Regions from separate parts of the Homo sapiens genome. Here region 1 is linked to region 2. Evidence: fine-mapped expression QTL. A gene starts in region 2. The other region holds a variant in brackets. All regions are shown on one strand. Distances are between the middles of the regions.

The links. PIP is the estimated chance that this variant, and not a neighbour inherited with it, causes the effect.
Region 1: its variant is fine-mapped to the expression of ELOVL6 in whole blood (TOPMed, PIP 0.98).

Annotation. Positions count from the first base shown.
Region 1 is chr4:110,163,207-110,168,580 of GRCh38, forward strand. All of the region lies in intron 1 of ELOVL6 (ELOVL fatty acid elongase 6), which reads right to left. Among named protein-coding and RNA genes, the nearest start is that of ELOVL6, 33 kb to the right of the region's middle. The variant G/A (reference allele first, on the strand shown) is at 2,433.
Region 2 is chr4:110,196,021-110,201,394 of GRCh38, forward strand. It overlaps ELOVL6 (ELOVL fatty acid elongase 6), which reads right to left and starts at 2,595. Exons shown (of 4, transcript NM_024090.3): 1 at 2,227-2,595. The coding sequence starts at 2,315. RefSeq lists enhancers at 293-587, 2,176-2,968 and silencers at 322-431, 632-1,261.

The sequences.
Region 1 (5,374 bases), 33 kb before region 2:
TGGATCTCTCTTCTCCTAGATGGGCCCAGGGCTAACATGGTCTTCTCATTTGCTACTAGGTCAGATGCCAATCCTTTAGTAAGGCTTTCCCTGACCCCCTAGCTAAAACAGCTCCCTCTGGCCCCAAGTCACCTCCTATCACACTATTTTCTTTATAGCAGTTAGCAACATCTAATGTTATTTTGTCTATATACTTGTTTACATGTTTAGTGTTTGTGTCCTAGTGGTATGAACGGTCTCTGAGAACAGCGGCCTTGTGCCTGGAACAGAGTCTGGCAAATACAGGCTCCTCAATAAATATTCATCAAACTGAGTCACTGAAATTTAACAGTTATGGACTGACCGCATAGTGTAGCAGACTGGGATGAAGGCCAAGTCTTATCATCAATGAGTATAAAATGCTAGAAGGGTGATATACAAGTCACAACTGACTTTAATATGAGAAAATCTACCACTGCCAAATGAAAAGCAAAAATGGAAGAGTTTAAGATTAAAAGTTCAAAACCTTAAAAGGTTGTATGAAGGTGGCAGCACTGAGTTGGGCTTTCTAAGTTTCAGAAATAGAGAAAGAAGAGAGATATTCCAGTGGTTTAATTTGCCAGGGTCATAAGATACTTATAGAGCAATGGGAGAACTAACTGTAAGATCGAATGGTGAGTTAAGGTCAAGGAATCTTCCTTATCAGGTGGGTAAATCTGAGTCATAGTGACAGGCAATTTGGGAGCAATGAAAAGTTCTTAGCCCTGGTTGTGACATGACATTTCTGAATGTGTAATGAGAAGTTCAAAAATGTTGGCTAGGAATTCATTACTCAGTTGAAAGCAAAATAATACTAAAATATCTGCTGAGAGTCATGCCAGTAAAAGCTACTTTTCATGGAGAGCCTAGAAAGTGCTGGACATTTTGTAAGCCATTGACACACCTTAACTAGTTTAATTATTACTACAGCCTAATTTGATTATCTCAATTTCACACTTAGAAATGGGGGCCTAGGGAGGTTAATGAATGTGCTCAAGTTCACCAAGTCATTAAGTAGCAAAGGCAGAATTGAAACTGTGTCTGAATCCACAGGTCCCAGAGTTTGATACACTGCTGCCCTGATGACAAGTTAAGGTGAGGGAAGATGAAGCCAAGGCCACCCTAGGAAAGGAAAAAGTAAAACGGTTTGTATAGCATGAGTATTCTGAGCTAGGCACTAAGGAAACACTTTGACCTAACTCAGCTTTCATAAGTCTGCCACAAGATGCCATGAACATTTGTCACAAGAAAGCAAGCACAGCCGGGTGAGGTGGCTCATGCCTGTAATCCCAGCACTTTGGGAAGCCAAGGCAGAAACAAGCTGAGGCAACGTGGCGAAAGCCCATCTCTACAAAAAATAGAAAAATTAGCCCGGTGTGGTGGCATGCACCTGTAGTCCCAGCTACTCAGGAGGATGAGGTGGGAGGACCGCTTGAGCCCAGGGAGGTCAAGGCTACAATGAGCCATGATCACGCCACTGCACTCCAGCCTGGGTGAAAGTGGGACCCTGTCTCAAAAAAAAAAAAAAAAAGAAAAAAAAAAAAACACTCAGGTTGGAAGGCAGGTGGGTTGGTAGGCTGCTCATTTATTTCTGATGAAAGAATTTCTTGTTTTGGGGAATTTCTTTTTTTTGAGACAGAGTCTCACTCTGTTGCCCAGGTTGGAGTGCAGTAGCACAATCACAGCTCACTACAACCTCTGCCCCCCAGGCTCAAGCAATCCTCCCACCTCAACCTCTCGAGGAGCTGGGACTACACGTGCACCCCACCACACCCAACTAAGAAAGGATTTCCTGAATGTAATGTGGTATGTGGCCTTTCTGTGCATTTAGTCTTTATCATGCCACCCAAATTGTGGTAAACATATAAGCTTGTAGAGCAGGTTTGATCTCTATTCTTCAAAAAGAGGACTGGTTTCTGACTAGCTGGACTAGCAAAACAGACCATTTGCTAGATATCTACAAACTATAAGCAACCCTCTCCATTATCCTCTCACAGAAAACAATACCAGGGCACCTGTTTAGTGGAACCATGTGCTATTGCCATTCATAGGCCAAAATAGTTAAGTATCGACAATTTACAGGAGGCCCTTCCACCATTATGTTCCTGATTTTGTGGTTCCTTCCTGTCTAGCAGACCTACTCCAACTCCTTAGCCTGGCTTCCAAGCTTCCAATCGACCCTCACAACCCAACTTTATTCCTCAAACCCCACATAAACCTTAGTCAGGCCAGGCTGATTCTCCTCTCAGCTACTGCTGCTCATCAAATCCTCCATTTTAATAGCACTGCAAGAAACAGGAGGGATGAGCTCAGGTTGTCTAGCTCAGAGACACAGCAGCCTGCACTTCAGCTTTGTTCTCTGTAGCACATGTGGCTGTGGTAGGCAGGAAGTAGCATGGTCTCAGGAGCTGGGC[G/A]GTTCTAATCTCATCTGAATCACACACAGAGATGAGTTAATCACTTCTTTGAGAGTCAGCTTCCTCAACTATAAAATAACAATTATGATGCATTCCTGTCAGAACTAACAGGAGGATTTTTGTAATAAAGTATGTGGAGCTGGCCAGGTAACACCTGCCTTGCAAAACCAAACATTTACCCATGCATTGGAGTGAACCCAAGGCTAATTCCCCAAGGACAATCCTATATCCTCTGCCAGAAGAGTTTAGCACATCTGGGAAGTGGGAAAAGAGGGTGGTCTTTTCCACGTAAGAAAACCAGTTAGGCTTCTCTACATCCCTAACAAATTATCAACCCACGATCCTGCTTTCAATACATCTGCCTCCTCTGTCAGTGACAGAGCCTCAGCACTCCTGGGACAGCTTATCAACAAAAGCCCAGCTCAGAGCTGATCTGGAGGAAAGATACTGTCAGCCTTCCCCTGGGTACTATAAATCCCAGCCTGCTATCAAGTGAGATCCTAGAGAAGTTGCTCAAGGCACATTCATTTCGCCCCTGGACTGCAGTGTTCTTTGACATTATATCCCTGATTTTCCTTCAAATGTTGTTGTCTTTGGGCTAGGACCTTGGTTTGTTCTTAACTTACTTGAGCAATAATGAGACATCACCTTTCTTTTCAGATAACAAGAATTCTCTTAAATTCTTGTGTTTCAGCCAGGCGCGGTGGCTCACGCCTGTAATCCCAGCACTTTGGGAGGCCAAGGCAGGTGGATCACGAGGTCAAGAGATCGAGACCATCCCGGCCAACAACCGTGAAACCCCATCTCTACTAAAAATATAAAAATTACCTGGGTGTGGTGGTACGCGCCCTGTAGTCCCAGCTACTAGAAGGGCTAAGGCAGGAGAATCGCTTGAACCCGGGAGGAGGGGTTGTAAATGAGCCGAGATCGCGCCACTGCACTCCAGCCTGGTGACAGTGAAACTCCGTCTCAAAAAAAAGAAAAAATTCTTGTGTTTCCACTTTTGCCCTTGCTGCCAGAAGGCAATGAACACTGCCTGTTAATCTCAGCATGGTCAGCCCTCATGGTTAGCATATAAGACATCATGAGTATTCTGGTGCTACCACCATGAAAGGAAACTCCGTCTTCCTTTTTCATCAACCCAACTATTAGCTCTCAAAGTCCCTGCCTTTTGCTGGAGTGTTTCTAAATTTCTTAGCACATAGTGATTTTCTATACTATAGTTACTATAATACTATATTCCAGCACTGGAATATTTGTTCTTTTTCTGTAGCATTCTACTGTATTTTGCATGTACATCTGCCTTCCTAAACAGACTGTGATCCAAATAAGTTGAAATATATACAGAGGGTCTGTCTGTCTGCCAATGCTAGGACATTGCCTTCTATTTCTTTGTCTTCTCACCTGTCTCCTGCATGTCAGGCACACTCTCATCATTTAGTAATCACCAGCTGACTTGACCCAAGAAGACCAAACAGTCTGAATGCACACAGTAGCTGAAGATCACAGGGTTTCAGTATCTCTCCACTGGCAAAAATATTAGGTGCATTGAGACACACTTCTGGTTCTCAGGAATAAAAACTTTATCCCATCTTCAAAATGTAATCGCTATTAGAGTATTTTTACATGCACAGTAAAAGGACTTGTGTTTTAGTACATACAGCGTTAAGTACTTAACCTTATACTAACTGTAAATATGTCTCTCTCTGTGTGTGTTTACAAATTGGCCTTGTTATTATACATGCTGTTTCATAAGCAGAGTTTTCTGCAACATGTGGTATACATTTTTTTTGTCAAGATATATTCTTCTATAATATAGTTTTAATGGTTACATAAGAGTTACTAAAGGATGTTTTTTTGGTTGCAGAGAGGGGAGTGAAGGGGGAACATTATAAATTTTATTTATTTTCTTGAGGCAGAGTCTCACTCTGTTGCCCAGGCTGGAGTGCAGTGGTGCAATGATCCTCAGCTTCCACAAGTAGCTGGGACTACAGGGTGCCTGCCACCACCTCAGTTATGTATGTATGTATGTATGTATGTATGTATGTATGTATGTATGTATGTATGTATGTTTGTATGTAGAGACAGGGTCTCCCTGTGCTGCTCAGGCTGGTCTCAAACTCCTGGCCTCAAGCCATCCTCCCACCCTGGCCTCCCAAAGTGCTGGGATTACAGGCGTGAGCTGCTGCACCCAACCTCTCTTATGCTTTTGGAGAGAAAAAATAAAACACCTATCTCCATGATTAGGGCTATTCTAACAGTTTGTACAAAACTTTCTGAGGCCTTGAGAGGCAGAAACATATCCAGGCAATTAAGGAAGTTCTTTCTTGTATTTTTGATATATAATTTTAGATTAAATGCTTAATTCCAATTGGAAGGTATAGTTAGAAAACGTCTACTACTTAAGATTAATATTTTAGTGGAAATTTTGTCTTTGTATCAATTTATGAACAGAGCCAAAATTTAAGTGAACATAAAAGAGATTCAATGAAAAAAAGTTAAAACCCTTTGAGAGTAAATCATTTTTAGGTGTATTTTTAGCTTATTGCATGAGAATTATATGGCTATAAATCATTAGAGTAAGGGTCAAATTCAGGCCAGTGTGATGGCTCATGCCTGTAATCCCAGCACTTTGGGAGTCTGAGGTGGGCAGATTGCTGGAAGCCCAGAGTTCGAGACCGGCTTGGGCAACAAGGCGAAACCCCGTCTCTACTAAAAAAATATGCAAAAGTTAGCTAGGCATGGTGTTGCATGCCTGTAATCCCAGCTACTTGGGTGACTGAGGCACAAAAATCACTTGAACCCAGGAGGCAGAGGCTGCTGTGAGCCAAGATCGTGCCATTGTACTCCAGCCTGGGCGACAGAGCAAGACTGTCTAAAAAAGAAAAAAAAAAAAAGTCAAATTCAATGGATGCAATCAGAACTTTTTCAAAAACTGCTCT
Region 2 (5,374 bases):
CCCACGAGGGCTGAGACCTGTCTGGCTCAGTACTGAGTGAATGGAGAGAAGAGGCGGGAAATGGTACCTGAAGCAGGCCTAGGAAGTGGCCTCAGAGAAAAAGCAACAAGTAAATAAGAGGCAGTATCGACTGCAGTGGGCTAGGAATGGCGGGCGTACAGTGAATGGGGTCAGCCAGCAAAGCGAGGGAAAGCGGACTCCGGAAGAGCAGGTTAAACCAGGACGCAGCAAGTCAGAGATTCGGCACAGAAGCAAATGCTGACCACACTGACCACACAGGCTAATGCGGGAGGACTGTGGGCCCGAACAGGCCGGCTGGAGGATATGACAAACATGTGCGGAGAAGACCCGGGCCCGGGGCTAGCCAGCAGCGCGGTTCCGGCGCCCGCCGGCTCCGGCCACCGCCCCCTCCCCGCCTCCAGCACCACCCCCTAAGCGGGAGGAGGAAGTGCATCCAGAGAAGGACCCCGGGCGGTGGGGCTCGAGGGGCCTCGGCTGCCCCGAAACGCCGAGGTCTATCTGCGGTCTCGACCCTTAGTGTCCAACCTCCTTCCGGACCCACCCCTGCACCCCCTGGCCTCAGCGGCCCGGGAGGGCACCAGCCCTGTGCCTGTGTGGCTGCTGCACTTCCAGTCCTTCCGAGCGGCCCGCGTCCCCGCCTCTTAGGCTCCGGCTCGGGCCAGACGCGGCCCTTGGGCCCCTAGCCCACCGCCGCCACCAGCCACGCCGCAGCTCACCCCAAGCAGGCCTGCCCCGCCGGTGCGCGCGGCCCAGGAGGCGGGCTCCGCCCGGCAGCCGCCGCAAATGGCCATTGGGGCCCGGACCAGCCCGCGGGAAGCTGGGAGTGGGCGCGCTCCGGCCGGGCGGGAGGAGAAGGAAGCGGCGGCCGGGCCTCCCGACACTGGCCGGCGACTCCAGGGGGCTGGAGGACAGGAAGTTGAAACCCCCTTTTCGCAGCTGCGGCCCCGTGGCACCAGCTCCTACTGCACCAACCCGCCCAGGCCACAGGCGCGCCGGCGTTTCTGGTTTCCAGTTGAAGAGGGCAGGCGGGAGGGCGCGGGGCACGCGCGCTCGCGCACGCGGCGGGCGGAATCCCCCGGCTCCCGGGAGACCCTGCGGCCCGACCCTCCCCGGTCAAGCCATCCCCCGGGCTGCCGGCCCCTTGCCTAGCTCCGGGGTGCGTTGGGCTTGAACTTTACAGATCGCCAGACCCGAAGTTAAGGGGAGGAGAGGAATGCCTCTGCCACAACCCTGTCTACAAGAAGCGAGATGAGCACACCCTCCTCTGTTAAATATTGCAAGGTGACACTGGATCGCCTCCCACACAGGGATTTTCAAAAGGTCTGGCGGGGGGACTACAGTAAACAAGAAAGGTGTTTTCCCTGATTATTAGTTTCCTAGGGAAGAGCCCCTAAGGACTCTGCAGACGGAGGGGCTTTTAATCTGTGTGCCTGAACTCCAATCAGCAGCTACGCACAGAATTAGAAGTGTGTCCAAAAGGCGTTTCCGTAAAACAGAAACTTAATAATGGCGTGGCTCCACTCGCTCGGGTTCATTCATTTATTACTGTTTTCATTGTCCCCTCCTCCCTCCCACCCGGTCTCTCTATGAAACCGGAAAGGGAACCGCGTGGGGAAAGGGGTACTAAAAAGGGGGCATCCGCCTGAGGAGCGGCAGACAGAGGAGGACGGTGAAGTAGGAGCGCTGCAAGGAGAAAGGAAGGACACGAGGGATGGAGAGACAGCGAGGACCAGGGCCAAGGGCGGCGGGCGGGAGAGGGTTAAAGGCAACAGGAGACAAGGTCCTCCCTCCACTGCCTTTCACACTCCGGTTGCGGGAGAGGCCAAGCGAGAAAACCCAAATCTAGATGAAAACCGGGGGAGGGGAGGGGAGCACAGGTAGGCGATCTGGACTGTGGCATCTCTCCCGCCTTCCCTGTCGCGCAGACATCACCCTGTGCACACACATATGTTCTGTGTTATATAATCTATATAAAAGATGCCTATGTAGCCGCGGTTCACACAGGGGCACCCACAGACCTCGCGCTTCATGTACCCCCCCCCCCCCAGCGTCTCCTGCACCCGGGAGACCCGAGAACTCAGCGATCAGCTGGCTGCCCGCGATTCATCGCTCCATTCACGCCCAGGCAGGGAATACCGACATTAAGGCACTCCGGGAAGACGCGCAGGGCTCCCGGGAACAGTATCAGGCGAAAGCATCACGTACCAGTTTTCCTGCATCCATTGGATGGCTTCATTCTCGTTGAACTGCTTTTCGAATTCATATTCTTGTAAAGTCAACACTGACATGTTCATTGGGGCTGATCTTCGGAGTCGCTACGTGTTCTCTATACAAAATAAAATAATCTGTAAAGCGCTTGATTTCGAGTGTTCTCCTGTCTGCTTCCCCCACCCACCCCCCTAGGTCTTCCCCACGCCGCTCGGTCTCCAGCGGTCGTCTCTTCTCCCAGCCTCTCAGCTACATCCAGGGCTGAGCATTGCCTGCGCCTCCGCTCCCAGCTCCTCTCTCTGGGGCTCTCCTCCTCCCGGCGTCCGCATCCACCGTAGGAGGAAATGAATGCCTTGCGGTCTTAGTGCCCGCACGTTTGTCCATCACCCTTTTTACTCGTCTACAGGGAAATCTCCTCCCCCTCGTGCGATTTGAGAAATTAACCCTTGGCGAGGGAGTGTGCGAAAGAGCGCGACCTCTCTCCGCCCGGGGGGGACAGTTTTGTTTACAGCGAAGGTGGTTGGAAGAGTGGGGGAAGGGCGCAGAGAGAAAGGAAGTGGCCTGGAGGTCATCCAGATCCCCTAAGCCCAACCTCGTGGGCCGCCTTGCTTTGAATGAAGTTTCAGCTTGCAGGGCGCATCCCCGCGGCGCGTGGACCCGAGAGCTTGGCGAGTAAACGATTGGGAAATAGTAAAACCTGCCAGCTCTCTTGCAAGAGAACTCCGGGCAAATCTACGTTGAGATCACCAGTGAAGGGAATACGCTTCCCACCTCCTCGCCCTACCTCTGGGACCACCCCCACCCCTACCCCCACCCCCACCCGGGAGCTCTGGCTTAGATTCACGCTAACCCAGGCCCTGCGGACGGCAGAGCTCCTTAATCTCGTACAGACAGGGGATGCTGAGTGTGAGGATAGTGGATAGGCGAGAGAGGCTAGTAGCCGGAAGTGGAAGAAAGGGCTGGGTTAGGTGGAGGGTTTAGGTACCGGGAAGGGGGGGATTAATGAACAGAGGCAGAGTGGGGAAGGAAGCTGACAGGAGAACTGGACCGACTGGCCAAATGCAAAAACTTTATTTGCATGCATGAGAAATTTGGCTTTACTTGCTGTACTTGTAGGTAGAACAGAATATGTGAGGAGAGGGCTGAATGTACTGTTGACCCCTACTGGGCCCTCAGCCTCCAAGAGGAAAAACTATTTTCTATTCCATCCATCCCTCCACTCATTTCCCCCAAGAGTTTGGAAAAATGAAATATGAGACATGGAAGTATCTAATGATGTAATTGTAAACTTTACAAAATAATAAGGAGCCCTGCTTTTAAAAATTAGGTGGATATTAGGACCAGAAAGAAAATTCCCCTTCTGAGAACATCCCCCCACCTCCCCAGTAGTCCAAAAAGGGTACTTTCATTCAATTTAGATGCCTCTAACCCACAAAAAGTGGGAACTGGGAGAAAAATTTTTAAAGGAGGAAGGGACCGGCCGCGGTGGTGGCTCACAGAAGTAATCCCAGCACTTTGGGAGGCCGAGGTGGGCGGATCACCTGAGGTCAGGAGTTCAAAACAGCCTGGCCAACATGGTGAAACTCCGTCTCTACTAAAAATATAAAAATCAGGCAGGCGTGGTGGCGGGCACCTGTAACCTCAGCTACTCAGGAGGCTGAGGCAGGAGAATCGCTTGAACCCGTGAGGTAGAGGTTGCAGTGAGCCAAAATTCTGCCACTGCACTCCAGCCTGGGCGACAGAGGGAGACTCTGTCTCCAAACAAACAAACAAAAAAAAAAAAGAGGAAGGTCTAATGAGAAAGTAAAGAAATAATTTTTAAAATCCAGTACAATATATAGATTAAAGGGCTAGCCTAGTTGATTAGCAAATTAATGTATACATTGACACTGCCAAAGATTCTGTGTAGGGACTGTCCTCATCTCCCCCATTAAGGGTTGTCTTTCTTTTTTCTTTTTCTTTTTTTTTTTGAGATGGAGGAGTCTCGCCCTGTTGCCCAGGCTGGAGTGCAGTGGTGCAAACTCGGCTCACTGCAACCTCCGCCTCCCAGGTTCAAATGGTTCTCTTGCCTCAGCCTCCCCAGTAGCTGGGATTATAGGCAAGCACCACCACGCCCGCCTAATTTTTGTGTTTTTAGTAGAGATGGGGTTTCACCATGTTGGCCAGGCTGGCTGTGATCCACCTGTCTCAGCCTCCCAAAGTTCTGGGATTACAGGCATGAGCCACCATGCCCAGCCAAGGGTTGTCTTTCTAGAGACCTCTACAGTACAAGTCTACGTCACTTTGAAGTAAGGCCCAGGCCAAAACTCTTGGCAAGATTGGGCTGGAAGATAGGTGTGGCCAGATAAGAAAGAACCATTTTAGCACGGTGCCTGAGCCTGTGAATAATCAATAAATATTTGTAAAGTGAATGATTCATCAAATAAATTAAGGTAAGAAGTGAGAAAGGAATCAAGACAGAAAATCCACTTTGGGTGGCTGAGGCAAGACAATTGCTAGAGACCAGACTGGGCAACATAGTGAGGCTCCATCTCTACAAAAAATTAAAAATTAGCCAGGTGTGGTGGTACATGCCTGTAATCCCAGTTACTCTGGAGGCTGAGATGGGAGGATAGCTTGAGCCTGGGAGGTCAAGGCTGCAGTGAGCCATGATCACACCACTGCAGTCCGGCTTGGGTGACAGAGTGAGACCTTATCTCAAAAACAAACAAGCACTGTCAGTGACTTTGAAAACTGGTGACTCTGTATGGAAAGCAATTTGGCAGCCTATATGATAATTTCATTTATTTTTTAGAGATGGGGACTTGTTATGTTTTCCACGCTAGGACTATAGGCACCCAGCATATATCACAATTTTAAATCCACACCATTAATTCACCAGAATTATTTTTTTTTTTGAGATGATGTCTCCCTCTGTTGCCCAGGCTGGAGTGCAGTGGCGCGATCTCGGCTCACTGCAACCTTTGCCTCCTGGGATCAAGTGAGTCTCCTGTCTCAGCCTTCCAAGTAGCTGGGATTACAGGAATGTGCCACCATGCCCAGCTAATTTTTGTATTTTTAGTACAGACAGGGTTTCACCATGTTGGCCAGGACGGTCTTGAACCCCTGACATCAGGTGATCTGCCTGCCTCAGTCTCCCAAAGTG